Linked DNA regions of Homo sapiens. The protein of the gene in region 7 purifies or fractionates together with the protein of the main gene of each other region. This does not show direct contact. Each region holds a gene or a part of one and is shown on either strand. Other genes may lie near its edges. The genes, in order: KIAA1549, SLC12A6, CSPG4, LRRC8E, ITGA7, SLC12A4 and LGALS8.

Region 1 (3,500 bases), on a different chromosome or scaffold from region 7:
TACATAGCTCCAGAGTTAGTCCAGGCTGACTTAGCCTTCAATGTTCCAACAATACCTATTCCCAGAAGGCTAGAACAGAAGGCACTTTACCTCTTAGCCCAGTGCTTCCCAAACCTCAATTGTGCATGCAAAATCACCAGGGGGATCTTGTCAAATGCAGATTCTGATTCAGAAGGTCGGGGGTGGGCCCTGAGATTCTGCATTTTCTAACAAGCTACGAGGCAGTGGAGGCAGTGATGATGCGAGCTAAGAGGCAGTGATGATGCTCAGAGTGTGGGGACCACAAGATTAGAATTTCACTAATGAGAAGTAATTGCCTGAAGCTAACAAAGGAGATGGAAAAAAGAAAGAGACAAAGAGAAAGAATAAGAGAAAGCAAAGTATGGGTCTTGAGTGTGTGGATGCAAGAGGGAAGAATAAAGGGAGTTTTTAAAAAGAAGAGCCATCTGCAATGGTGAGAGTGAGCTGCCTTCAGCAGGTCATGGGCCTAGAACATCTACCAGGCAAGGAGAAATGACAAAACAACCTAACAGAAAAAGGACAGATGCTGCTTATAAGTGCATTCCAAGACATCCAAGATGTTGACTTGATATGTAGGAGCTACAGGGAGAAATGAGCTACAAGGAGCTAGAGGGTTAATGAGATTAGCGCTAATCTCATTAACCCTTTCTTACACCGAGGAGGAAACCCAGGACAAGGTAACTTGTCCATAGTCACAAAGTTACAGGCAGATTTGCATTTGCACACACCCAGGTTTTTTAACTCACCTTTTAACAAATCCTGCTGCCTAACAACAAGAAAAAGAAATCACATCATTGTGAGCTCCAGATGAAAGGTGGGTGGTCACAACTTGAAAACAAATTAGATCAGTTAGAACAGTGTCTTCCTATCTGGGAAAATCAACCTAGTGTAATTATAATGACGGTAATTAGCTGCCTCTATCATTCAGGGCACTGATAGAAAACCTGTGGCTCCCACGTCCCTAGTGACTTGTAACAACTCCCTGGCTGGGTTCTGTTTTCAGAATTAAGTGAGGCACTTCCTGACAAGCACTGCAGCAGCTGTTCCCAAACGGGCAGGAGTGAGCATTGAAAATGCAGTCCTCTGCACCCTTTCACTCCCAACCCAAACAAAACCAAGCAAAAACATGTAACAAAAAATGCTTATTTTATTTTACCTTATCTTATTTTATCTTATTTTATTTTGAGATGGAGTCTTGCTCTGTCACCCAGGCTGGAGTGCAGTGGCGCGATCTCATTTCATTGCAACCTCTGCCTCCCGGGTTCAAGCAATTCTCCTGCCTCACCCTCCCAAGTAGCTGGGATTACAGGCACCTGCCACCACACCCGGCTAATTTCTGTATTTTTAGTAGAGACCGGGTTTCACCATGTTGGCCAGGCTGGTCTCCAACTCCTGACCTCAGGTGATCCCAAAGTGTTGGGATTACAGGCGTGAGTCACCGCGCCCGGCCTCAACATAACGATTTTAAATTAGCTGTTCTAACAGTGAAAAGACAACTGCAAGATACCAATGGTATACAGTAGTCCCCCTCCTCCAAGGTTTCGGATACCGGAGGACAACTGCAGTTTGAAGATATTTTGAGATATTCTGAGGTATTTTGAGATACAGCATATTCACGTTTTATTACAGTAGACTGTTAGAACTGTTCTGTTTTGTTATTATTGTTAATCTCTTACTGTGCCTCATTTTTTAATTAAACTTTATTGCAGGTATGTACATATAGGAAAAAACCATGGTATATACAGACTTCAGTACTACCCAAAGTTTCAGGCATCCACTGGGGGTCTTGGACCACATCCCTTGCAGATAAGGAGGGACTACTATATCTTCAAAATACTGTTAATTTTCAGTTACTGGGTTTACCATATCCGGATCAGTGGTTCCAATGCTCAGGGGCTAAAACGGAGCTGTCAACTTGTTAAAATGAAGATTCCCAGGCACTGCCACCAAAGAGTCTAATTTAGAGGCTAAGGGTGAGTCGTAGACATCTAAATTCTTAACAAGCACCCCCACATCCCCAAATGATGTTGATGCAGGAGGCCTAGGGGCCACACTTTTGAAACATTTAAGTATTTGTTTATAATATCCTAAACGACTCACAAAGCATAAATATTCACCTAGAAATGGCCAATAATAAAACAGCACATTAAGAAAAAAATTTCACACACCATAAGCATAAATGCAATAAAAAAATTATTAAAAGAACAAATGGCAGATCTTGCTAATCAAAACAACCAAAAACTTCTACATTTCAAAATTATGTAAAATTTAAAAGAAATTCCTTTGGAAGGGGAAAACGCAACATATAGAAGGAAAAATGGTTGCTATCCTTCTAATACATAAAGATTTAAATACATATCTATGCCACAACAGGTAAATAAATAAAAATACAGAGAAAATTCACAGAATACAAATACAAAATAAAAAATATTCAATTCTAAAGCAATAAAACCGTGCAGGTTAAAACAATGTATTACAAATTTATTTAACAAGGGCTTTTAAAGTAACATTCAATGCCAGTGATGAAGTGAATACTCAATGCAAGTGATAATGGAAGGCCCCTGCGTAAGCTTCAAGGGCTTATGTCAGCATTATAACTTTCAAAAATTGCTTCATTCAAAAATCACATACTGAGTACCTACTAGGGGCCCAGCATTTTGAACAAAAGATGCAGAAATCCAGCCTGGTGGGCCTTACATTTTAATCACACTCTAATACCCCTTCCACAAATGTATACTCAAGAAAACACACACACACACACACACACACACACACGGAAAGAAACATGCACAAAGCCTTTTTTTTTTGAGACGGAGTCTTGCTCTGTCGTCCAGGCTGGAGTACAATGGCGCCATCTCGGCTCACTGCAACCTCTGCCTCCCTGGTTCGAGCAATTCTCCTGCCTCAGCCTCCCAAGTAGCTGGGATTACAGGCACATGCCACCACACCCAGCTAATCTCTGTATTTTTAGTAGAGACGGGGTTTCACCATGTTGGCCAGGATGGTCTCAAACTCCTGACCTCAGGTGATCCGCCCACCTCGGCTTCCCAAAGTGCTGGGATTACAGGCGTGAGCCAGCGCGCATGGCCAGCAGAGCCTTCTCTATGTAGCTATTCATCAGCATTACTTACAGCAACCCAAAAAATGGAAATAAAAGAATAAATCATTAGGATAGAAAATAGTTTTCAAATAAGACTTAATGAATGGAAAAATGCTTAAGTTAAATGTAGAGTGGAAATGGTAGTAAATACAATTGTGCATATAATTCTTTTTTTAATGTTAACAACAAAAAAACGATAAAATTACTTAGTGTTACCTACAGGCTGTGAGATTATGGGTGACTGGTTTCTGTACCTTTCAGTAATTTCCAAATTCCCTACAAAGCAATCTATTTCATAATAACTATTACTTTTTAAAAACTTATCTCTGAATAAGGTGAAGAAACTGGGCATGATTCTTTGTTTTTATACTGTGGATGG
Region 2 (3,500 bases), on a different chromosome or scaffold from region 7:
TAATTTTAAGTCAGAATTTCATAGAGTCTCTCTGAGATTTTCCCTCTCAGATAAGCCCAGTTAGACTTCCTTCCTCATCTAGGCAGGAAGCCTACCAGCAAACTATGTCCCGTTCATCCTCTTTCTTATGTCCTAAGCATAGAACTAGTAGCTGTAACCATCATTTAGGTTCAGATATTAGATTTTTTTCTCCCTGATAATTGTACATAATCTTTTTTTATTATACACATTTTGAACTATTCATAAAGGGCTTTGCAGACAGTGTAGTTATTGCCAGCAACCTTTATAAGGCCCACCTTGGCCTCCCGACGTGCTGGGATTACAGGCGTGAGCCACTGCGCCCAGCCTAGGTCAGGGCTTTTATCCATTACCCAAATAATGTACTTTGTACCCATTAAGTACTCTCTCATCATTCACCACCTCCTTCAACTCCCTAGTGCGAATACTTTAAAGTATGTTTTTTGAAGTAGTAATGGATTTGTGCACATCTGTGACTCACAGGCTCACTTTTCCCTTTGACTAGTGGCATAGGGACTAGCTGGCACTCAGTGTTATTTGTAGTCTTGTTACAGAATTATCTTGAAGAGTCATCTGGATTATCTGAGGATCAAACTCATCGGTTCTATGTTGATTTAACCAGATTACAGAAAAAAAGATTTTTCAAGACAAAAAGACAGTTCCAGTAGGTTTAATGACTTACCTCAAAGTTAATTAATGGCAGAGCAAGAAGATGAACTGTGATTTCCTGACTCCCCATTCAGTATTTCTTCTATGCTATGCTGCATGATGGCAGAAGTAGATTCCATCTTAAACTTTTAATCTGCTTATCTAGGGACTGTAATACAGCTGAAGGTCCTTTTTAGGGGCATAAAATTTCTAAAGGTGACATTCTGGTTATATCTCAATTTGGGAAATTCCATTTTGTCTCAGGTTCACCTTTGGGGCTTCTCCTCTTTTTTGATTAGTACACGGTCATAATGCATGGTATTTTCTTTGAGATATTCCAGCAAAACAAGACAAAAAATCTAGAATAATACATGAAACAAGACTGGGAAATGTTGAGAGTTGTTGAAGCTGAGTAATAGGTACATGGTTCATAATAATGTATTCAATCATTTTGCAAATTTTAGAAGTCCCTTTGTTGGACCTGAGAGGTATTTTAACTATGGATGTATTATTCCTTTGTTTATATTTGTGTCTCTGGGTTAAAGAAAAAAGTAAAACCAGCAGGTTAATATTTATGTTATCCTTACCGTCACTCCCACTGAGTCTAGGCTTAAATTCAAAAACAGTTTTCTCTTAGGCCATAGAGGGATCTGCCTTTTAATTCTGACCAAGCTGTTTTCCTTGCAACAGTAGCCAGAAGATTCAACCTTTAGCATAACATTTTCAAGGTGTTTGTTATGAATGTTAGGCTTTTCTAGGCCAAAAAAAGAGGAGTGCTTTTTACTTTATAAGAACAACAAAAGGACTTCAGTATTCTTTTAGACCTAACAATTTTAGCCAAAAATTTTGGAAGATGAGTCAGCATAATGTCTTCAGACAGTTCTTCAATTTGACTTCCTTCACTGCCACCACCTATGACCTTGGACAGATAACTGTATTTCCCTAACCTTCAATTAACTCCCTGTCTTCCTAAACTTCAGTGCCTCCATCCACAACATAGAAATTCTAATACATTGTGAGGTTGCTGTAAGTATTAAATTGGCAGAAAATGTAAGTCACCATTCACAGTGTTAAAATAAATTATAAATAAATAAACATTAGTTCCTTTCCCACCCATAACAGTAGAAGCTCTTAAAGATGGGGTTCTTGTTTCCTTTACTAACCTGTTTCCTTTTTTTTTAATGTACTTTTTTTCCTTACTTGATCTTTCTCCCTATTTCTTTTCACTTAGGGTCTGCATGCTGGGTAACCGCACCCTTTCATCAAGACACATTGACGTTTGCTCTAAGACCAAGGAAATTAACAACATGACAGTCCCATCAAAGTTATGGGGATTCTTCTGTAACTCGAGTCAATTTTTCAATGCCACCTGTGATGAATACTTTGTTCACAATAACGTCACTTCAATCCAGGGCATTCCTGGATTGGCTAGTGGTATAATTACAGGTAAGTTAGGGAGTTATTGGACAAGTTTTTTCCTATTTTCTGGGGAAAATAGGCCTTGTCATCTTAGATTCCTCTACTGTCCATAAAGATTCACTGCCATGGTGCTAATTCCCTTCTTAAGCACACCACACAGCTCTTAATTCACCATATTTCTGCTTTTCCATTAGTAAAGCTGTCCTTATTCAGTACTCCTTTACAGAGTGATGTCTGCTAAAATTCACCTCCATTTCAGAGCAGAGTTGAGCAAATCACTTTCTAACCTTACGGTAAAATATTCCGTGTATTCTTGTAAAATTGCCAATGTTCTTCCTGCACTGACAGAATAGACCTGTTTTAATGTCCACATCCACATGTATCTTCCTAACTTAGCTAAATTCCTGAAACATTCCTTAAGTGTCTTCTATTATAAATGTTTGGTCTATAAATTTCTTTGCACATAAGTAAGTTTACATTAAGGTGTTAGAAACAGCACTGATGACAAATAATAATGGGATTTGTGGGGCATTTAGTTTTAGTCTGTTTAACTTTTACTAATTTGCATTAGTAAAGTTAAACTATATTTGCATGTACCAAATCATTTTGTCAAATTATATTTAAATTAGATAAGAAAGAACATTATGTTTAGCTGGGCGCCGTGGGTTATGCCTGTAATCCTAGCACTTTGGGAGGCCTAGGTGGGAGGATCATGAGGTCAGGAGATCGAGACCATCCTGGCTAACATGGTGAAACCTCGTCTCTACTAAAAATATAAAAAATTAGCTGGGCGTGGTGGCAGGCGCCTGTAGTCCCAGCTACTCAGGATGCTGAGGCAGGAGAATGGCGTGAACCTGGGAGGCAGAGCTTGCAGTGAGCCAAGATTGTGCCACTGCACTCCAGCCTGGTGACAGAGTAAAACTCTGTCTCAAAAAACAAACAAACAAAAAAAAAACTATGTTTTTATTTATGTGTGTTTTATTGTGCAATGTGTGTGTATACATGTGCTCATGTAGAAGCAAACACACCTTTAGAAACTGTATAAATGAGGAGCCTGATTTTGAATGTTTGGGTAGAAAATTAATTATCTTTTTTTTTTCATACTGCTGCTGCTTAAATTCCCATTTTTCCCACTGCAGAGAATCTTTGGAGTAATTACCTACCCAAGGGAGAGATCATCGAAAAGCCTTCAGCCAAATCTTCTGATGTCTTAGGCAGCTTAAACCATGAATATGTTCTTGTTGACATCACCACCTCCTTCACGCTTCTGGTGGGAATCTTCTTTCCCTCTGTTACAGGTAAACACATAGGCTGTTGTATATTTTAGAAGCTGTCAGACCCACGGAGTGATTTTTCTCAGGAGGCAGAATTCTCAGGGTTCCTAGATTTGCTTCTACTCTTTGCTATCAGTATCA
Region 3 (3,500 bases), on a different chromosome or scaffold from region 7:
TGTCTCCGGGCCCTACTTCCCCACTCTCCTGGGCCTCAGCCTGCAGGTGCTGGAGCCACCCCAGCATGGAGCCCTGCAGAAGGAGGACGGACCTCAAGCCAGGACCCTCAGCGCCTTCTCCTGGAGAATGGTATGGCTGTGAGAGAGGCCCAGGGGCTGCAGCCCAGCTCTGGGGGCAGAGTGGAGGGAGCCCTGGGGACTCCCAGTCTGGGGGTTATACACAGAGAGGAGACGGGGAGTCACATTTCAGAAGCACCTATGCTTTAAATACCATATATCTTTTCTTCCTCACAACTCCTCGGAGCCAGAACTTATGGTCCCCATTTTCTACCAATGGAAAATGAAGCCCTAAAAGAGTCAGTCTCCTCCTGCACCCAAAGGCAGGGCATGAAGGGTGCTGCTGGGGCCTGACTGCCAGCCCTGGGCCTGCCCCTAGGTGGAAGAGCAGCTGATCCGCTACGTGCATGACGGGAGCGAGACACTGACAGACAGTTTTGTCCTGATGGCTAATGCCTCCGAGATGGATCGCCAGAGCCATCCTGTGGCCTTCACTGTCACTGTCCTGCCTGTCAATGACCAACCCCCCATCCTCACTACAAACACAGGCCTGCAGGTGAGAGCATCCCTGGGAACACCCCCATGTCTGCTTCGAGAAAGAGGCCAGCGTCCCCTACTTCGCGGCTCAGAGCTCCCCCAGCTCTGATCCTCAGTTTCCTCCTCTGCAAAATGGGGACGCTGCCACATGCCTCACGGGGTTGTTGGAAGGAGAGAAGTGAGATTGTGCTGAAATAGAACACAGGTGGGAAGTTTTTTTATTGGATGTTTGCAAGTATGGTAGGCAGACTTCTGAGCGGCCACGGGTGGCTCTGCTGTTCCTTCTTCTGTGGCTAAGGACCAGAACATCTGACAGAATCACTTACAAGCCCTTAAGGGCAGGCATCAGGGCGGAAGCTGTTAAGTTTCCCACCTTCACCCAGCAAGTGAAGGCCATGGCTTGGCTCCCCAAACTCCTGCACAAGGCTGTTCCACGCCCAGCAGGACAGTGCAGGGAAGGCCCTGGTGAACTTCGCTCAGGCAGAGGTAAGGGCCCCACTCTGCAGGTGGAAGTTGAGGCCCAGACGTGGGATGGAACTTCTCCATGGTTGCAAAAGTAGTTCTGGTGGAACAGAAAGGGCATGGCTTTACAAAGCCCACATGGCAGGGCTTTGAACCCCAGCTTCTGGGGTGCATCCTCCCCGGTCAGCAGGAGCCACTGAAGTTTCCATAAAGGGCTGACTTGGGCTGTCTCTGGCATGGGGTGCCTGGGGCGGGGGTGGGGGCGGGGCCTTGGTGGTCTAGGATGTGCCCGTAGCGGGTGGCCTGGTGGTGCGGAAGCCGCCAAAGAGTGGGACACAGTGCTCTGGAACCACAGGCCAGGACGGCTGTGTGGCAGCACAGCCACCAGGTGGTGCCATCTACCTGTGTTTGCTCCAGAAGCCTAGTGCTGGGGTCCTGCCCCGCAACATTATGGCCCCTCCTGCCAGGGCTGGGCCTGAGGGCTCCCTGGGGCCGGGGGAGGAAGCCCAGGAATGCCAGAAGGCTCTGTTTTCCGGGCATGTGAGTCCCACTGCAGCTCTGCCCGCAAGTAATTGACCCAGCAAGACTGGTACCAGGACCTCAGGAACAGGCACCTGCTCTGCTTGCAAGTGGGAGGCCTGAAAAAGGGGTCCCCTTTGCCCAACATAAGGAGGGCCCCTAACTGCTCTGGAAGCACCTGGGCCCATCCCACGCTGATTCTGTGCTGCAGAACAGTGCCAACCATCAGCCCCCCACTCTCTGCGCCACGCACCCCTCCCTCAGCTGGAAGGAGGGCCCATTTCTAAAATCACCATTCCCACCTGTGCCCGGCCCCGGCCAGGCACACACGGAGGCTCTGAAAGGAGACCCCTGTCCCACCAGTGAGACAGATTAGGGAGCACTGTTGGTCAGCGCTGGGGGTTTCTGGGAGTGAGAACTTGGTGAGGGTAAGAGCTGGGGCCTTCCTGGGTAGGGGACATAAGCTGGCCTTGAGGGACACACAGGACTAGGGCAGATGGAGAGCAGGGAGGCTGGGCCTGGAGGGTGACCTTCCCTGGGGCCTTCCCTGGGGTGACAGGGAAGGTGAATGCGGGAGGCCCTTTGTGCAGGGGAGCCAGAGTGGCGCCAGCCTCGATGCCACCCGAGGGGCTGAGCCGCAGCAGGACTGGAGCCCTGGTGGCAGCCCAGGGCCGGGGAGGAAGGGGTGGGTGAGTGCGGCAAGGCAGAACCTTCACAGGCCTGTGTTCCCAGATGTGGGAGGGGGCCACTGCGCCCATCCCTGCGGAGGCTCTGAGGAGCACGGACGGCGACTCTGGGTCTGAGGATCTGGTCTACACCATCGAGCAGCCCAGCAACGGGCGGGTAGTGCTGCGGGGGGCGCCGGGCACTGAGGTGCGCAGCTTCACGCAGGCCCAGCTGGACGGCGGGCTCGTGCTGTTCTCACACAGAGGTGGGTGCTGAGGGCCGGGCCTCGGGTTCCTGCTGCCCACGGGGGTGCCCTGAGATGGGGAGCCGGCTCGGGCCAGCTGGACCCAATGCCCCTGTCCCCAGGAACCCTGGATGGAGGCTTCCGCTTCCGCCTCTCTGACGGCGAGCACACTTCCCCCGGACACTTCTTCCGAGTGACGGCCCAGAAGCAAGTGCTCCTCTCGCTGAAGGGCAGCCAGACACTGACTGTCTGCCCAGGTGGGTGTGCTGATCATGGGCATTCCTGGGTGCCAGGAGCTGGGGCGGAGCTGAGGGTGGCATGCCAGGGTCACGCTGCCTCTTTGCAAACACAGGCCTGGACCTGGCTCCCAGTCAAAATCTGATATCCCCTTTTGCCTCTGGCAGGGTCCGTCCAGCCACTCAGCAGTCAGACCCTCAGGGCCAGCTCCAGCGCAGGCACTGACCCCCAGCTCCTGCTCTACCGTGTGGTGCGGGGCCCCCAGCTAGGCCGGCTGTTCCACGCCCAGCAGGACAGCACAGGGGAGGCCCTGGTGAACTTCACTCAGGCAGAGGTAAGGGCCCAACTTTGCAGCCACCACTCAGATGCCCCCAGCCTCAGGTGGCCGCTGTGCCATGGACATCATGTGGACATGGATGCCAGCTCCAGCATCACTGGCAGCAGACGTTCCCGGGCCTGCCATTGTCCAGGCGCTAGTGTCCTGTCCTCCAGGAGCCGCCAGGCTGGCAGGGCAAGTTCATGTTCCCAGAAGGAGGGAGAAGGATGCAGAAAGTCGGGGATACAGGGCCCTAGAGCAGGGCTGGGGTCTTGGGGTATAGCTTCCAGAAGGAAGCTACAGCCGGACCCGAGGGTCTGGAGAGGGGGCACCATGTGGGGGCACTAGTGGTACCCCAGTAGCTGATGAGGGGCAGTGCTTGGTGGGGGATGGAGTTGGACGTGAAGCAGCGGCTGGGCCTGTGGGCAGAGGTGTGAGCCTGGGGCTCAGGTCAAGTGCCAG
Region 4 (3,500 bases), on a different chromosome or scaffold from region 7:
TTGGTCCCTGCTCGGGTGTGTGTGTGTGTGTGTGTGTTTGTGTGTGTGTGTGTGTGTTGTGTGATTTCTTCTGCAGCCTCCAGAGTCAGGAGTTTTTGTTTTGTTTTGTTTTTTTGAGACGGAGTCTCGCTCTGTCGCCCAGGCTGGAGTGCAGTGGCGAGATCTTGGCTCACTGCAGCTTCTGTCTCCCGAGTTTAAGCAATTCTCCTGCCTCACTCTCCTGAGTAGCTGGGATTACAGGCATCCACCACCATGCCTGGCTAATTGTTTTTGTATTTTTAGTAGAGACGAGGTTTCACCATGTTGGCCAGGCTGGTCTGGAACTCCTGACCTCAAATTATCCGCCTACCTTGGCCTCCCAAAGTGCTGGGATTACAGGCGAGAGCCACCGCGCCCGGCCCCAGTCAGTAGTGTTTTGCTTGCTGTGTTTGAGATAGGGTCTTGCCCAGGCTGGTTCATGGCTCACTGCAGCCTCTAACTCCTGGGTTCAAGCAATCCTCCCACCTCAGTCTTCCAAGTAGCTGGGACTACAGGCATGCACCACCACACCTGGCAAGATTTTAGATTTTTTTTTTTTTTTTGAGACGGAGTCTCGCTCTGTCGCCCAGGCTGGAGTACAGTTGTGCAATCTTGGCTCACTGCAGGCTCTGCCTCCCAGGTTCACGCCATTCTCCTGCCTCAGCCTCCCAAGTAGCTGGGACTACAGGCGTCTGCCACTATGCCCGGCTAATTTTTTGTATTTTTAGTAGAGACGGGGTTTCGCCGCATTAGCCAGGATGGTCTCAATCTCCTGACCTCGTGATCCACCCACCTCGGCCTCCCAAAGTGCTGGGATTACAGGCGTGAGCCACCGCACCCGGCCCAAATTTTTAGATTTTTTTGTAGAAATGGGGTCTGACTATGTTGTCCTGGCTGCTCAAACTCCTGGGCTCAAGCAATCCTCCTGCCTCAGCCTCCCAAAGTGCTGGAATTACAGGCCTGAGCCACTGCACCCAGCCTGGGGTCAGCATTCTTAGGTAAAGCAACTGAGCAGTGTCCCTGCAGGATCCTTGGAGGACTCAATGGATGGCCGGAACCAAAACAGGACGTGAGGGTCCCTGGTGCTGGGTCCCTCCGAAGCTCAGTGTGTGTACTTGGACTTTATACCCTCGTGCACAAATATGCATGACCCAAAATGACCCCAAGCGTCCATTTTGGTGGGTGCAATGTACATATTCTTCCCCTGGGGACAGTTGAGCTATCCTGGTATGTTTCTACCAGATTACATACTGGTGACCCAGGCAGACTGGGATATTTGTAGTCGGGTTTCTTTTCTCTTCTCTTCTCTTTTTTAGAGACAGGGTCTTGCTCTGTCGCCCAGGCTGGAATGCAGTAGTGCAATCTTGGCTGACTGCAACCTCCGCCTCCCGGGTTCAAGGGGTTTTCGTGCCTCAGCCTCCCGAGTAACCGGGACTACAGGCACCCTCCACCATGACTGGCTGTTTTGTATTTTTATTTTTATTTTGTTTTAGTTTTGAGACAGAGTCTTGCACTATTGTCTGGGCTAGAGTGCAGTGGCGCAATCTCAGCTCACTGCAACCTCTGCCTCCCAGGTTCAAGCGATCCTCCTGCCTCAGCCTCCCTAGTAGCTGGGATTACAGGCACCTGCCACCACGCCCAGCTAATTTTTTGTATTTTTAGTAGAGACGGGGTTTCATCACGTTGGCCAGGCTGGTCCCTAACTCCTGACCTTGTGATTTGCCTGCCTCGGCCTCCCAAAGTGCTGGGATTACAGGCGTGAGCCACCGCACCTGGCTAATTTTTGTATTTTTAATAGAGACGGAGTTTCACCATGTTGGCCAGGCTGGTCTCGAACTCCTAACCTCAAGTGATCTGCCCACCTCGGCCTCCCAAAGTATACTTGGCTTTTTGCTTAGGGCAGGGAGTGTGAATGAGCATGAGGGCCAGGCCATGGTGCGAAGGACCCTGTGCTCTGGGCACCCCCTTGCATGGATCTGGGTCTGGGTGAGTCACTGCCTGAGTCAGGGAACCCATGACTTTTTTTTTTTTTTTTCCCGAGACAGAGTCTCGCTCCGTCTCCCAGGCTAGATTGCAGTGGCACGATCTCAGCTCACCACAACCTCCGCTTCCCGGGTTCAAGCGATTCTCCTGCCTAGCTGGGACTACAGGTTCATGCCACCATGCCCGGCTAATTTTTGTATTTTTAGAAGAGACGGGGTTTCACCATGCTGGCCAGGCTGGTTTCGAACTCCTGACCTTGTGATCCGCCTGCCTTGGCCTCCCAAAGTGCTGGGATTACAGACGTGAGCCACTGCGCCTGGCCCAACCTATGACATTTTACACTTGCATGGTGAGTCCCCGTGTGGGCAGGCTGTACCCACACCCTTGCCTGCCTATCTGATTCCCCAGACTGAAGTGGGGGCCTCTGAGGGGGTAAAAGGATGTGGTCTTTCGGGACTGCTTGGCCTTTAGCTTGGTGGGTGGAGCCTGTATCCTACCTTGTTTTAACCCAGGAGTCACCCCAAAATATGGGGGGGACACAAACTGAAAAGGGAGGCTCAGACATGTCAGAACCATTGGCTGAGTCGTGGGTCAGGGGACCAGGGTTTCCCTAGATTCTTCCTGGGGAGATGGATGGGGAGCCAGAGATAACTCCCTGATGGGCAGATGCCCTCCTTCTTGGCCCAACTCCTGTCCCGTTACAGATTATCTTTGTCTTTTGTTTTGTTTGTTTGAGATGGAGTCTCACTCTGTCACCCAGGCTGGAGTGCAGTGGCACGGTCTCACTTCACTGCCACCTCTGCCTCCCCGGATCAAGACCCTCCCACCTCAGCCTCCAGAGTAGCTAGGATTACAGGTGTGTGTCACCACACCTGGTTAATTTTTTGTGTATTTTTAGTAGACTCTGGGTTTCACCATGTTGGCCTCACTGGTCTCGAACTCCTAACCTCAAGTGATCCACCTGCCTCAGCTTCCCATAGTGCTGGGATTACAGGCATGAGCCACCGCGCCCAGCCCCAGTTACAGATTATCTATCTGGACAAGGACAGGAGGCTCCCAGGAGTGGGGGAACTTGGATGTTGGCAGAAGTGGGCTGGTCTAAGGTTCCCCACCTTCCTTGTTCCACCTCCAGCCTCTGGGGAAGTAGGTACCTGCCTGGGAGAGTGACATCTCAGCTCATGCCCCACGCCCCAGTGTGATTTGTGGCTGGCCTGTCTGTATCTGTAATAGTGATAGCTTGGTCTAAAAGGAGACCCTGGGAACAGACAGAGTGGGCCGGCCAGGAGCCTGACAGCACAGCCCTAGCCTGGTCGCAGATGTCACCTGACAACTTTCCATTTGCAAATCCTCCTTCCTCCTCGGACATCCGGACACCCCATTGCCCCCTCTCAGAGCCCAGGTCTCTGGTTTCTGCCTGTGATTCTGGGCTGTAGCCCCTTTAGAAACTCAGGTGTCCTGGTCACCTCCTACCCCCAGGGCTGACTAGCCTTCAGCTTGGC
Region 5 (3,419 bases), on a different chromosome or scaffold from region 7:
GCACTCATTTGCTCCTTCCCCAGCCTCCAATTAGAACAAGCCACCCACCAGCCTATCTATCTTCCACTGAGAGGGACCTAGCAGAATGAGAGAAGACATTCATGTACCACCTACTAGTCCCTCTCTCCCCAACCTCTGCCAGGGCAATCTCTAACTTCAATCCCGCCTTCGACAGTGAAAAAGCTCTACTTCTACGCTGACCCAGGGAGGAAACACTAGGACCCTGTTGTATCCTCAACTGCAAGTTTCTGGACTAGTCTCCCAACGTTTGCCTCCCAATGTTGTCCCTTTCCTTCGTTCCCATGGTAAAGCTCCTCTCGCTTTCCTCCTGAGGCTACACCCATGCGTCTCTAGGAACTGGTCACAAAAGTCATGGTGCCTGCATCCCTGCCAAGCCCCCCTGACCCTCTCTCCCCACTACCACCTTCTTCCTGAGCTGGGGGCACCAGGGAGAATCAGAGATGCTGGGGATGCCAGAGCAAGACTCAAAGAGGCAGAGGTTTTGTTCTCAAATATTTTTTAATAAATAGACGAAACCACGAAACCACTAGACTGATGGCAGCAAACTAAGGTCAGATGAGAGGGGAAACTAGAGAAGGAGCAGCCTGAGTCAGTGACACAACCTCCTCCCCGACCCTCTAGGTTAAGGCACTTCCGGGGAGGCAGGTCCTTGGGGTCCTGTTACACAGGGTGAATGGGAGAGGAAGGGATTAGGATCCCTTCTCCCCACCTTTGCATCAGGACACCCCTGCCCTTCTCACCCTACCCCATGGCCCTGTCCCTGATTTACCCACTCTCATCTCACAGCACTCTAAGGGGAAGTTGGGTGGGAGGAGTTCTTGTGGGTGGGAGAGGTCTGTGCCCCTGAGGAAGCCGATCCTGCCAAATCTTGATGCGACACCAGCAGCCCACTCTACCCTCTTCATCCCAAGGAGCCATCTCTGGGGAAGGGATGGAGGGCAGCCACAGGCCAGGCTGGGACATGGGAACCTAGGCGGTGCCTGGCCCTGGATGCCCATCGGGGCCCAGCTCGGGATGCCCGTCAGCAGCCAGGATGGGGTGTGCATCCGGGCCCTCCCGCCGGGGGCTGCCCCAGTTGTTCCTCAGGATGGTGCCCGTCTTCTCCTCCTTGAACTGCTGTCGGTCTTCCCGAGGAATCTTCACCGCATGGTACTGGGGCACGGTGGCCTCGGGGTGCTTCGCCCGTTTGAAGAATCCCATCTATAAGGACACCAGGCCAGACCATGAGGAGCCTGAAGAGCTGCGGTCCCTGGAGCAGATGCCTAGCGCGGCACAGCTCCTCACCCTCACCATCCCTGCTGCGGCAGAAAGGAAATAGGCTGAATAGCATCTGGTGTGGTGGGCAGCACCCACGGTGCTCCCATCAGTGCTGTGTCCCCAGGTTCTCATTCACAGCAAGAGAGAGACCAGAAGGGCGTCCAAGAGGCAGGACCAAGGGTATCTCCCTTGGCCCCTGAAAGAGGGCCTTGAGGGTGGAGCATCAGGACCGGACTCAAGATTTGTACCCCCTCTAGCTTCTTAAGAGACCCAATAGTGTCCCCCAGAACACAAACAAGACCTGAGGAAGAAAATGGCTTCCTAGTCCCCTGCATCTCTGGAATGATACCTCTCAAGCCTCATAAACATGCACCCCGTGTACTTGTACCTTGGGCGGCACGCCCCTTACAGCAATACCCTCTTGTCCATCAATACAGTAGTCTAGCCCCACCCTAAATGAGGACCATGCTGGCCCTTACACACCAGGGTGGGAATGTGCCCCTGCACACTCACACTCAGAGGCCCAGGACTCCTACATGCTCAGACTGCATGGCATCTCCTTACACATTCATCTCCTTGCACACTCATGCCCATAGAAAAAAGCATGCATGCGACCTCCCCACACTCCCACATGCTCACACCCCATGAGCCCACCAACCCTTTGTGCACGCCTCAGGCTGTGTAGACTTACCCTTATATCTGCACCCTTCTAATTACCTCTCACCTCACATCACTCTCATGCAATCTCATTTTTCACCCTGAACATTCCTGATCCCCTGAATGCTGGGAATTCTCCTTATATTCACACACATACATACCCACACACACTAGACACATGCACACACACAACAGTTACCCCACAGTCCCTGGACCCCCAACTTCCATGGCTGAAGGCTGCACAGCCAGACAGGCCCGGTGATAGTTGGTGGGAAAAGATGAGCTCTGGCTGCTCCGATGGAAGAAGCCACACTAGGATGTCGAGGGAGAAGCAGGGCAGAGGAAGCAGAGGATGGAAAGATTGAGGAAGGACAGGATCCCCTATCTCTGCTCTGTCTTCCTTCCATGGGAGCAGGGAGCAAGCATCCTGGGACCAGTTTCACAGAGGCATCAATCTCCCCTAAGACTGGGAAGGTTCCCAACAGCTTGGATGCCACTCCAGAGCCTGGTCTACTGATGATTCACACTTGCCAAAGGGTGGCTCAGTCTCTGATTGGTCCCAAAGAGCAGGCACAGGCAGGGGCAGTTCTCCAGAGCCCCAAGGACATGTGTGGTTCTGAACATAGCCCCCGATGTGGCAGATGGCTCAGCATATGACCCCGGTGATGTATGTGATTCCGTGTACTGACGTGTGCATGTGCATACTTTTACATTGAGCCCTGGATACCAGTATGATTCGGTATACAGCTCTGGGTGTACAAGAATGCTTCCATGCAGAGCCTGGTATGTGGAAGCTCTGAGTTCCGCCATGAGGGCAGTCCCCTGGAGGCCGTTCTCCGTGCTTGTTGGCCTTCTTGGCCACATTTACCTTTCCAGTTTTCACTGCCACATTCTAGTTAAGTCAGATCACACTTCTCTGCCTCCACGACTTTGCCTACCATGGTCCTGCTGGACCCCACCTACCTCATCCCCTTACATCCTCACCCTACTACCCCACCTTCCTCTGAGGACTGGTTCCAGTGCTACCTCCTCTCAAGCTTTTTTCCCTCTAAACTCCCACTCCATTTTCTCAACTCAACACTTCCTGCCTTGTCCTTGACTACAGGCTCACCACTCCCATCCCACTGGACTATAAAATCCCTGAGAACGAGATCTGCATCTGATTTCTTTTTTTTTTTTTTTTTTTTTTTTTTGAGACAGAGTCCTGCTCAGTCCCCCAGGTTGCAGTGCAGTGGCGCAATCTTGGCTCACTGCAACCTCCACCTCCCGGGTTCAAGCGATTCTCCTGTCTCAGCCTCCCAAGTAGCTGGGATTACAGGCACCCCCCACCATGCCCAGCTAATTTTTTTTATTTGTTTGTATTTTTAACAGAGACAGGATTTCACCATGTTGGCCAGCTTGGTCTTGAACTCCTGACCTCAGGTGATCCACTCACCTCAGCCTCCCAAAGTGCTGGGATTACAGGCATGAGCCACCATGCCCGG
Region 6 (3,500 bases), on a different chromosome or scaffold from region 7:
AGAGGGCAAAAGAGTGATGTCTGGGACAAGTGAAGTCTCCCTTGTCTGCCCAAACCCTGATCTCCCTGGATGGTCTTCCCCTGACCCCAGTCCTGCAAGTACCCACATCAATCGCGGAGATGGGATCCTGATCCTCCAGCCCATCCTCAGGCGGGGCTGGGCCAAGGCCTTCACCGCAGAACCTTGCTGCTTTCCCAGGTCAGGAGGCCTCCCAGAGCTCAGGTCCCCCAGCCCCACCGGGGTCTAGGCGATGATCCCTGCTCCTGCAGCCTTCTCGAGGCTGTGCTTCTACCTGCCTCCTGCCCACATTTAGCTTTTCCCTCTCTGTCAGCTCCTTTCTGACCTACACACAGGGAGAAGTTGCTTTGGTGTGAGAAAGGAAGACGAGGGCCCTTGGGGGCATGTGGAGATTAAGGAGCCTCGGCCAGATGTGGTGGCTCACAGCAGTAATTCCAGCACTTTGAGAGGCTGAGCAGGAGGATCACTAGAAGTCAGGAGTTCAAGACCAGCCTGGCCAACACGGTGAAACCCCGTCTCTAAAAACACAAAAATTAGCCAGGCATGTGGTGGGCACCTGTAATCCCAGCTACTCGGGAGGCTGAGGCAGGAGAATCGCTGAGCTTGGAAGGCAGAGGTTGCAATGAGCTGAGATCGCGTCACTGCACTCCAGCCTGGGGCGACAGAGTGAGACTCCATCTCAAAATGAAGAAAGAGAAAAAAAAGGCAGATTAAGGAGTCTCCATTACTCAGCCATGCAGTGGCTGAATGCATGGGTCAGAGTTTAGGAGCTTAAACTACGTCTTAAATCCAGATCTCACTGCTCAGCTTGAGTCTGAAGAAGATAAAACTCAAGTACAGAGGCAGATATTTGGGAATCTTTCCAGAGACGTATCCCCTAAAGCTGCAAATGGACCAGGACTCAGGGAACTAGAGAGGGACAGAGCTGGAAGGGTCAACCAAGAAAGACAAGGAAGAATCCATGGGAGAGCGAAGAACCATGGACTTGGAGAAGAACCAGGAGTGGAAGGAAGAGGAGAAATCCTGAGTTGGGAAATCCTAAGCGGGCGTTTCCTTGCTGAGGGGTTGTAAGGAAGTCAGAGGTGAACCACCCTGGAGGTAGCAATGGGGGTGGGATTGTGAGTGGCCTCTGGAAAGGCAGTTTCAGTTGAAAGGGCCAAGGGAACTGCAGCCCGGCTGCCATGAGAACCAGGAACACAAGAGGAGATGAGAGGAAGAGCAAGACAGAGGAGGCCCACGTGTCCAGCCTGCCTGCTTAGCTAAAGCCTCTGTGTGCCAAACCTGTGGCCCAAAATGGCTCCTCAGCTACCTCAAACAGTGCCAGGTTCCTGTCATAGTAGTCAATTCCTCTGGAAGCCTCCAAGGGGGAAAGAAAAGGGCTGCTCTCTCTGTGGTTGCCATGTCCTGTGAAGAGAGAGGGACAATCAGGGCCTGCTTCCTGAGCCCCCCAGCCTGGGCCCCTTCCCAGAAAGCCAGTCCCCAAATCATTTCTGTGGAGCACTTTGGAGCTGCAGTGTCACCAGGTTGCAACTCAGTTTTCACATGGCACCGTGCCAATGCTCTTGAAGGCCCAGGGATAGCCAGAGAGAGGCCAGTGACCAAAACCTGGGACATCATTCCCTCCAGTGAAGGGAATCCAGGTGAGGGCGCAGGCGCCCTAGCACAAGCACGTATGGACACTGAGGGACGGGGCCTGCAGAGGGGCGGGGCCAGCGTTTGACCCGCCCCCAGATCGCCTCCACGCCCCAGTCCCTTTCCCGGTCTTTCCGGAGTACCCAATGTGCAGGATGCCAAGGGTTCGGTGTCCTCAGGGACCGCCCAGGCAGTGCCCTCCAGATAGACGAAGCCGCACACAGCACCTTCGGCTGCCATGGCCCAAAGGTGGCCGGCTGGCTACCCCACCATGCACTGCGCGGGGGGCGTCCTGCAGGGCAGCCCGGGGCATGCCGGGAGGTGGGGCAAGCCCCAGGCCGTGGAGAGCGGAAGTGGATTCCAGGAGCCTTCTAGGGTTGCCTAAGAAAGTCGGACGGGTGGGTGTCGGACTGAGCAGGGAGAAAAATGGGAGCTGGGACTGCTGGCAGGAGCAACACAATGGCCCCCTTGCCCGCAGATCCCGCCGCTTGCCCCAGGCAAACCTCCGCCTACAGCCCTAGGCTGATGAGCCAGTGCCCCAGCTCTGAGAAATCTCGCCAAAAGGAGTGAAATGCTCCTTTTCAATAAGCCTGCCTCAACTCCCAAAGCTCGACTGTTTTTTCTGGCCTCCTATCATTCATTCTTCCCTGTTTTCCAACTCTTGTCCCTTATGAGTCTCGGTGGGTGCCATTCCCAGCTTCCCACCAAGCAGAACGCCAAGCACTCGTTTTCTAGGTGCTGAGTGTTCCCTCCACCCCAGCTACCCTCGCAGCCCCGGCCCTGGCTCAAGGCCTCACAGCAAATGGAAAGCACACATCTTGGTGTTGGATGGCAGCAGTATGTAGTTCTGACATGAGAAGGACTGGCATGGTGTCCAGTGATGGAGATGGCAACAGAACTGTCACCACCAGCCCAGGCTAGTGGTGTGATTGGGCCATGCACTGGCCATGCCCGCCAACCTTTTCTGTTTACATAGGCCACAATTCATTTTTCTTGACTGCAGCTGAGAATGCTGATTGAGGCATCCTCCTGTATCTGATACATCTCTTGCTATCAGCATGAGGCTTCAATTGCTTTCTCTGAGCCAACAACCACTCAGCAGGTGCTGTGCTGTGGATTCTTTATCCCCCAAGGAAACTAACAAATCAAGTGTGCCCATGACAGTTTCTGGGGCAAAGTCAGTTCTTCCTTCCCACAGCATGTGAAAGTGGCACACCTGCTACACCCAGCAACCTGGACTAGCTAAGTGAGCCAAGCAGCTCAGCCCCACATTCACATAGGTCAATGCCAATGGCACAGTGGACAAAGGCAGCCAGAGGTCAAGACAGTCCACCGTGTCATGTTAAAGCCAGGCGGGGTCATGTCGGACACTCTATGATATCTGCTGTACCCTCCATGCTTGTTCAGGATCAGAAGGAGTCCCAAGAAAAATCTGAAAACCCAGTAACACTCTGCCTCTTACATTAATGACATTAATGGCTCTTCAGTGAAAAGCCTTTGAAAATTACTTTTGGATTTTTGTGACAAAAAAAGTGTCTCCCTTTGATAAATCAGGTGCTTCATTTTGTCAGAAAATGCCAGTTATACAGCTCGTCTTACTTCTCTTTCTGCTTTGGCTGCCAGGAATCTCCAAGCTAAATTTACTCTTTAGATAAAGTCACCATCTGTCTCACCTGAGTGCTTGCCCCCTTCCTCTGCATGGTTTTCAATCTTCCTGAGAGTAACAATCACTTGGGGAGACACTTTTGTTGGCTATTTCTTCTGATTCTTTTGTGGAAGTAGGCTGGAAATCAATTATAATTTATTCTAAACTCATGTACTACAGCCTGCCCCATCACTGTTGCCTGGTC
Region 7 (3,500 bases):
CATTAAAGACAAAATTTCACTAGTAAAACCAAAAAAGAAAAGAGAGTGAAAAATCAGAGGGCAGAGCCTTAGTGAGGAAATCCACTCTCAGTCAGGAAGGCAGGCAGCAAAAAGAGAAGAAAAACAGCACAAAGGCTAGAAGGTATCTCACAGGTTACAAAAGAAAGACTTGACTGTGTTGTGTTTTAAGACTAAATTGTAAGGTAAAAAAGGAGTACTTAGAATACTAAGCAGAAAAGGATAAACATGGAAGCAAGGTTCCTAAGAAAACTGGGTACCAGGTAGGATTTATGTTGACAAGCAACTTATTAACTTGGAGTAACAACCAATTCTGTTTCATTTCTAAATGATTTCTTAACCAGCTAGCATTTAATCATATCTTAAGAACTCTATAAACAATAGCAAAATTAAATATATAGGTAGATAATGAACTGCCAAACAAGAAATTTCACTGGCAGCATTCCTGGTATGAAGTAAAGATACTGTCTTCCAAATTATTCATTCAAATTCAATAGAAAGAAAAGTAAGTGGCCAGCCACGGTGGTTCACGCCTATAATCCTAGCACTTTGGGAGGCCGAGGCGGGCGGATTGCCTGAGCTCAGGAGTTCGAGACCAGGCTGGCCAACATGGTGAAACCCCGTCTCTACTAAAATACAAAAGAACAATTAGCGGGGCGTGGCGGTGTGCGCCTGTAGTCCCAGCTACTCGGGAGGCTGAGGCAGGAGAATTGCTAGAACCCAGGAGGCAAAGGTGGCAGTGAGCCGAGATTGCACCACTGCACTCCAGCATGGGCAATAGAGCAAGCCTCCATCTCTTAAAAAAAAAAAAAAAAAGAGAAGAAAGAAAAAAAAAAAAAAACAGAAAAGGAAGCCTAACTTTTTTTTTCTTTTTTTTTTTTTGAGATGAAGTATCACTCTGTCGCCCAGGATGCAGTGCAGTTGTGCAATCTTGGCTCATTACAACCTCCACCTCCCGGGTTCAAGTGATTCTCCTGCCTCAACCTCCCATGTAGCTGGGATTACAGGCCACCGCCACCATGCCCGGCTAATTTTTGTATTTTTAGTAGAGACGGGGTTTCACTGTGTTAGTCAGGCTGGTCTCGAACTCCTGACCTCAAGTGATCCTCTCGCCTCGGCTTCCCAAAGTGCTGGGATTACAGGCATGAGCCGCAGCACCCGGACTCTGACTTTTTATTTTTATTTTTGAACATGGTTCTTGCTCTGTCACCCAGAATGAAGCACAGTGTCAAACTCACAGCTCACTGCAGCCTCAACCTCCTGGGCTCAAGCAATCCTCCCACCTCACTCTTCCTCATAGCTGGGACTACAGACATGCGCCACAATCCCCAGTTAATTTTTGTATTTTTATAGAGAGACAAGGTCTCACTATGTTGCTCAAGCTGGTCTTGAACTCCTGGGCTCAAGTGATCCACTAGCCTTGGCCTCCCACAGTGCTGGAATTACAGGCATGAGCCTCTGGACCCAGCCTTAGAGCCTGACTTTTTTAAGTCTTGGAATTCTATCAGTTGAACTAGTCAAAGAAATATACTAAATAGGGAAAAAAATACATAGGCCAGTTGCAATATTTACTTCATCTTTTCCAAGAAAACTTAATGTGGACAGTTGGTCTAACACCAATGTGGACCAAAATATTAGAAATAGGCCAGGCATGGTGGCTCATGCCTGTAATCCCAACACTTTGGGAGGCCGAGGCGGGAGGAGTGCTTGACCAGACTGAGAAACATGGCAAAACTCTGTCTTTACCAAAAAAAATACAAAAATTAGCCAGGCATGGTGGTGCATGCCTGTAGTCCCAGCTATTTACAAGGCTGAGCCCAGGAGGTGGAGGTTGCAGTGGGGTAAGACTGCACCACTCCACTCCAGCCTGGATGACAGAGCGAGCCTCTGTCTTAAAAAAAAAAAAAAAAAAAAAAATTGGAAACATTAATGAAATAAAAATTAAAAAGTGGCGGTGTGTTTATAATGCCTAATAAAGAATACAACAGACAATAAATATATTTACTTATTGAACCTATCAGTAACAAAACAACCATGATTCAAGAAAACAGGTTTTGTGTGTGGGGGGGTTTTTTTTTTTTTGAGATGGAGTCTCGCTCTGTCACCCAGGCTGGAGTGCAGTGGCACCATCTCGGCTCACTGCAACCTCCGCCTCCCAGGTTCAAGTGATTCTCTTGCCTCAGCCTCCCGAGTAGCTGGGATTACAGGAGGCTGCCATCACGCCTGGCTAATTTTTGTATTTTTAAGTAGAGACGGAGTTTCGCCATCTTGGCCAGGCTGGTCTTGAACTCCTGACCTCGTGATCCACCTGCCTCGGCCTCCCAAAGTGCTGGGATTACAGGTGTGAGCCACCATGCCCAGCTGAAAACCGTTTTCCTAAGTCTAGCTTATAAAATATACTAATTGATTATCTTTAAATAACTAAGTTGGCCAGGCATGGTGCCTCACGCCTGTAATCCCAGCACTTTTGGAGGTCAAGGTGGGCACATCACCTGAGGTCAGGAGTTTGAGACTAGGCTGGCCAACACTGTGAAACCCCATATCTACTAAAAACACAAAAATTAGCCGGGCATGGTAGCACGTGCCTGCAGTCCCAGCTACTCAGGAGGCTGAGGCACTAGAATTGCTTGAACCCGGGAGGCAGAAATTGCAGTAAGCCGAGATTGCATCATTTCACTCCAGCCTGGGTGACCAGAGGGAAACTATATCTCAAAAAATTAAAAAAAAAAAATTAATTGAATAAATAAAATAAGTTATTTACAGCCTTTTTTTTTGGAACATTGAAAGGGCAACTAGCTACAAATGAGAGAAATTCAGTGCAATACAGGCCCTTTATACTATAAATATTTTACAGCAGTGAAACGTAAAGAGAGCGCAAAATGTTTTTGCCATTCAGTTCAGTCTACCTCTAACCTTTCCGACTCTTTTGTGAGAACTGATAATAAAACAGAGAATTTTGAAAAGAAAGAAAAAAAAGCTATTTGCCAAAAATATCTCCCTTGGAAATGCATTATCCTCAGAACAGCATCCAGCCCATGCCACAAGACTGAAGGCATTTTCTGCTCTAGCGCAGAACTACTTCTCCAGATCCCCTTCCTCAAGAAATGAAGTCTACTTATTTTTGTTCCACCTCAATAGTTGAGAGTACTGACCCCAGAAACTACAGGAATCAGCAGTATGCTAGAATCAAGATATGCACGAATTTTACCTATAAAATTATCTTCTTTTCTGTGTGAAGGGCAGAAATGAACAGTGTAACCTTTATCCATTCTCCCAGCTTGAGCCAAGATGATACTTCAGACACCCGTGGCAGGCAGCCTAGTTTGTTGTTGTTGTTGTTGTTAAGATCTTTGCAGGAAATCAGTTTACAACCTTGGGATGTTTTTAACTCTAACATGCGCAAAGTCATCTTAAATGTCTCACAAGCTTCCGCTTCAGGAAGTCATCTTTTTTAAACTTACTACCACTGAAAGGCTATTTCT

The links.
Region 1: the proteins of LGALS8 (region 7) and KIAA1549 purify together in Homo sapiens (affinity purification with mass spectrometry; 3 studies listed by BioGRID and IntAct, with this or other methods). This does not show direct contact.
Region 2: the proteins of LGALS8 (region 7) and SLC12A6 purify together in Homo sapiens (affinity purification with mass spectrometry; 4 studies listed by BioGRID and IntAct, with this or other methods). This does not show direct contact.
Region 3: the proteins of LGALS8 (region 7) and CSPG4 purify together in Homo sapiens (affinity purification with mass spectrometry; 3 studies listed by BioGRID and IntAct, with this or other methods). This does not show direct contact.
Region 4: the proteins of LGALS8 (region 7) and LRRC8E purify together in Homo sapiens (affinity purification with mass spectrometry; 3 studies listed by BioGRID and IntAct, with this or other methods). This does not show direct contact.
Region 5: the proteins of LGALS8 (region 7) and ITGA7 purify together in Homo sapiens (affinity purification with mass spectrometry; 3 studies listed by BioGRID and IntAct, with this or other methods). This does not show direct contact.
Region 6: the proteins of LGALS8 (region 7) and SLC12A4 purify together in Homo sapiens (affinity purification with mass spectrometry; 3 studies listed by BioGRID and IntAct, with this or other methods). This does not show direct contact.

What each region holds. Positions count from the first base shown.
Region 1 is NC_000007.14:138,974,890-138,978,389, forward strand, and holds part of KIAA1549 (UPF0606 protein KIAA1549), read right to left. Parts: intron 1-3,500. UniProt on the Homo sapiens protein: May play a role in photoreceptor function.
Region 2 is NC_000015.10:34,250,782-34,254,281, reverse strand, and holds part of SLC12A6 (solute carrier family 12 member 6), read left to right. Parts: intron 1-1,897; coding exon 1,898-2,112; intron 2,113-3,224; coding exon 3,225-3,383; intron 3,384-3,500.
Region 3 is NC_000015.10:75,681,849-75,685,348, reverse strand, and holds part of CSPG4 (chondroitin sulfate proteoglycan 4 precursor), read left to right. Parts: coding exon 1-130; intron 131-436; coding exon 437-613; intron 614-2,307; coding exon 2,308-2,506; intron 2,507-2,607; coding exon 2,608-2,742; intron 2,743-2,889; coding exon 2,890-3,056; intron 3,057-3,500. UniProt on the Homo sapiens protein: Proteoglycan playing a role in cell proliferation and migration which stimulates endothelial cells motility during microvascular morphogenesis. May also inhibit neurite outgrowth and growth cone collapse during axon regeneration.
Region 4 is NC_000019.10:7,891,510-7,895,009, forward strand, and holds part of LRRC8E (volume-regulated anion channel subunit LRRC8E), read left to right. Parts: intron 1-2,063; exon of another isoform or gene 2,064-2,350; intron 2,351-3,010; exon of another isoform or gene 3,011-3,500. UniProt on the Homo sapiens protein: Non-essential component of the volume-regulated anion channel (VRAC, also named VSOAC channel), an anion channel required to maintain a constant cell volume in response to extracellular or intracellular osmotic changes.
Region 5 is NC_000012.12:55,684,068-55,687,486, forward strand, and holds the end of ITGA7 (integrin alpha-7 isoform 2 precursor), read right to left. Parts: intron 2,248-3,419; coding exon of another isoform or gene 2,135-2,247; intron 1,222-2,134; coding exon 991-1,221; 3' UTR 501-990; downstream 1-500. UniProt on the Homo sapiens protein: Integrin alpha-7/beta-1 is the primary laminin receptor on skeletal myoblasts and adult myofibers.
Region 6 is NC_000016.10:67,962,138-67,965,637, forward strand, and holds part of SLC12A4 (solute carrier family 12 member 4), read right to left. Parts: intron 1,916-3,500; exon of another isoform or gene 1,891-1,915; coding exon of another isoform or gene 1,794-1,890; intron 1,423-1,793; coding exon 1,328-1,422; intron 1-1,327. UniProt on the Homo sapiens protein: Mediates electroneutral potassium-chloride cotransport when activated by cell swelling. May contribute to cell volume homeostasis in single cells. May be involved in the regulation of basolateral Cl(-) exit in NaCl absorbing epithelia.
Region 7 is NC_000001.11:236,526,982-236,530,481, reverse strand, and holds part of LGALS8 (galectin-8), read right to left. Parts: intron 1-3,500.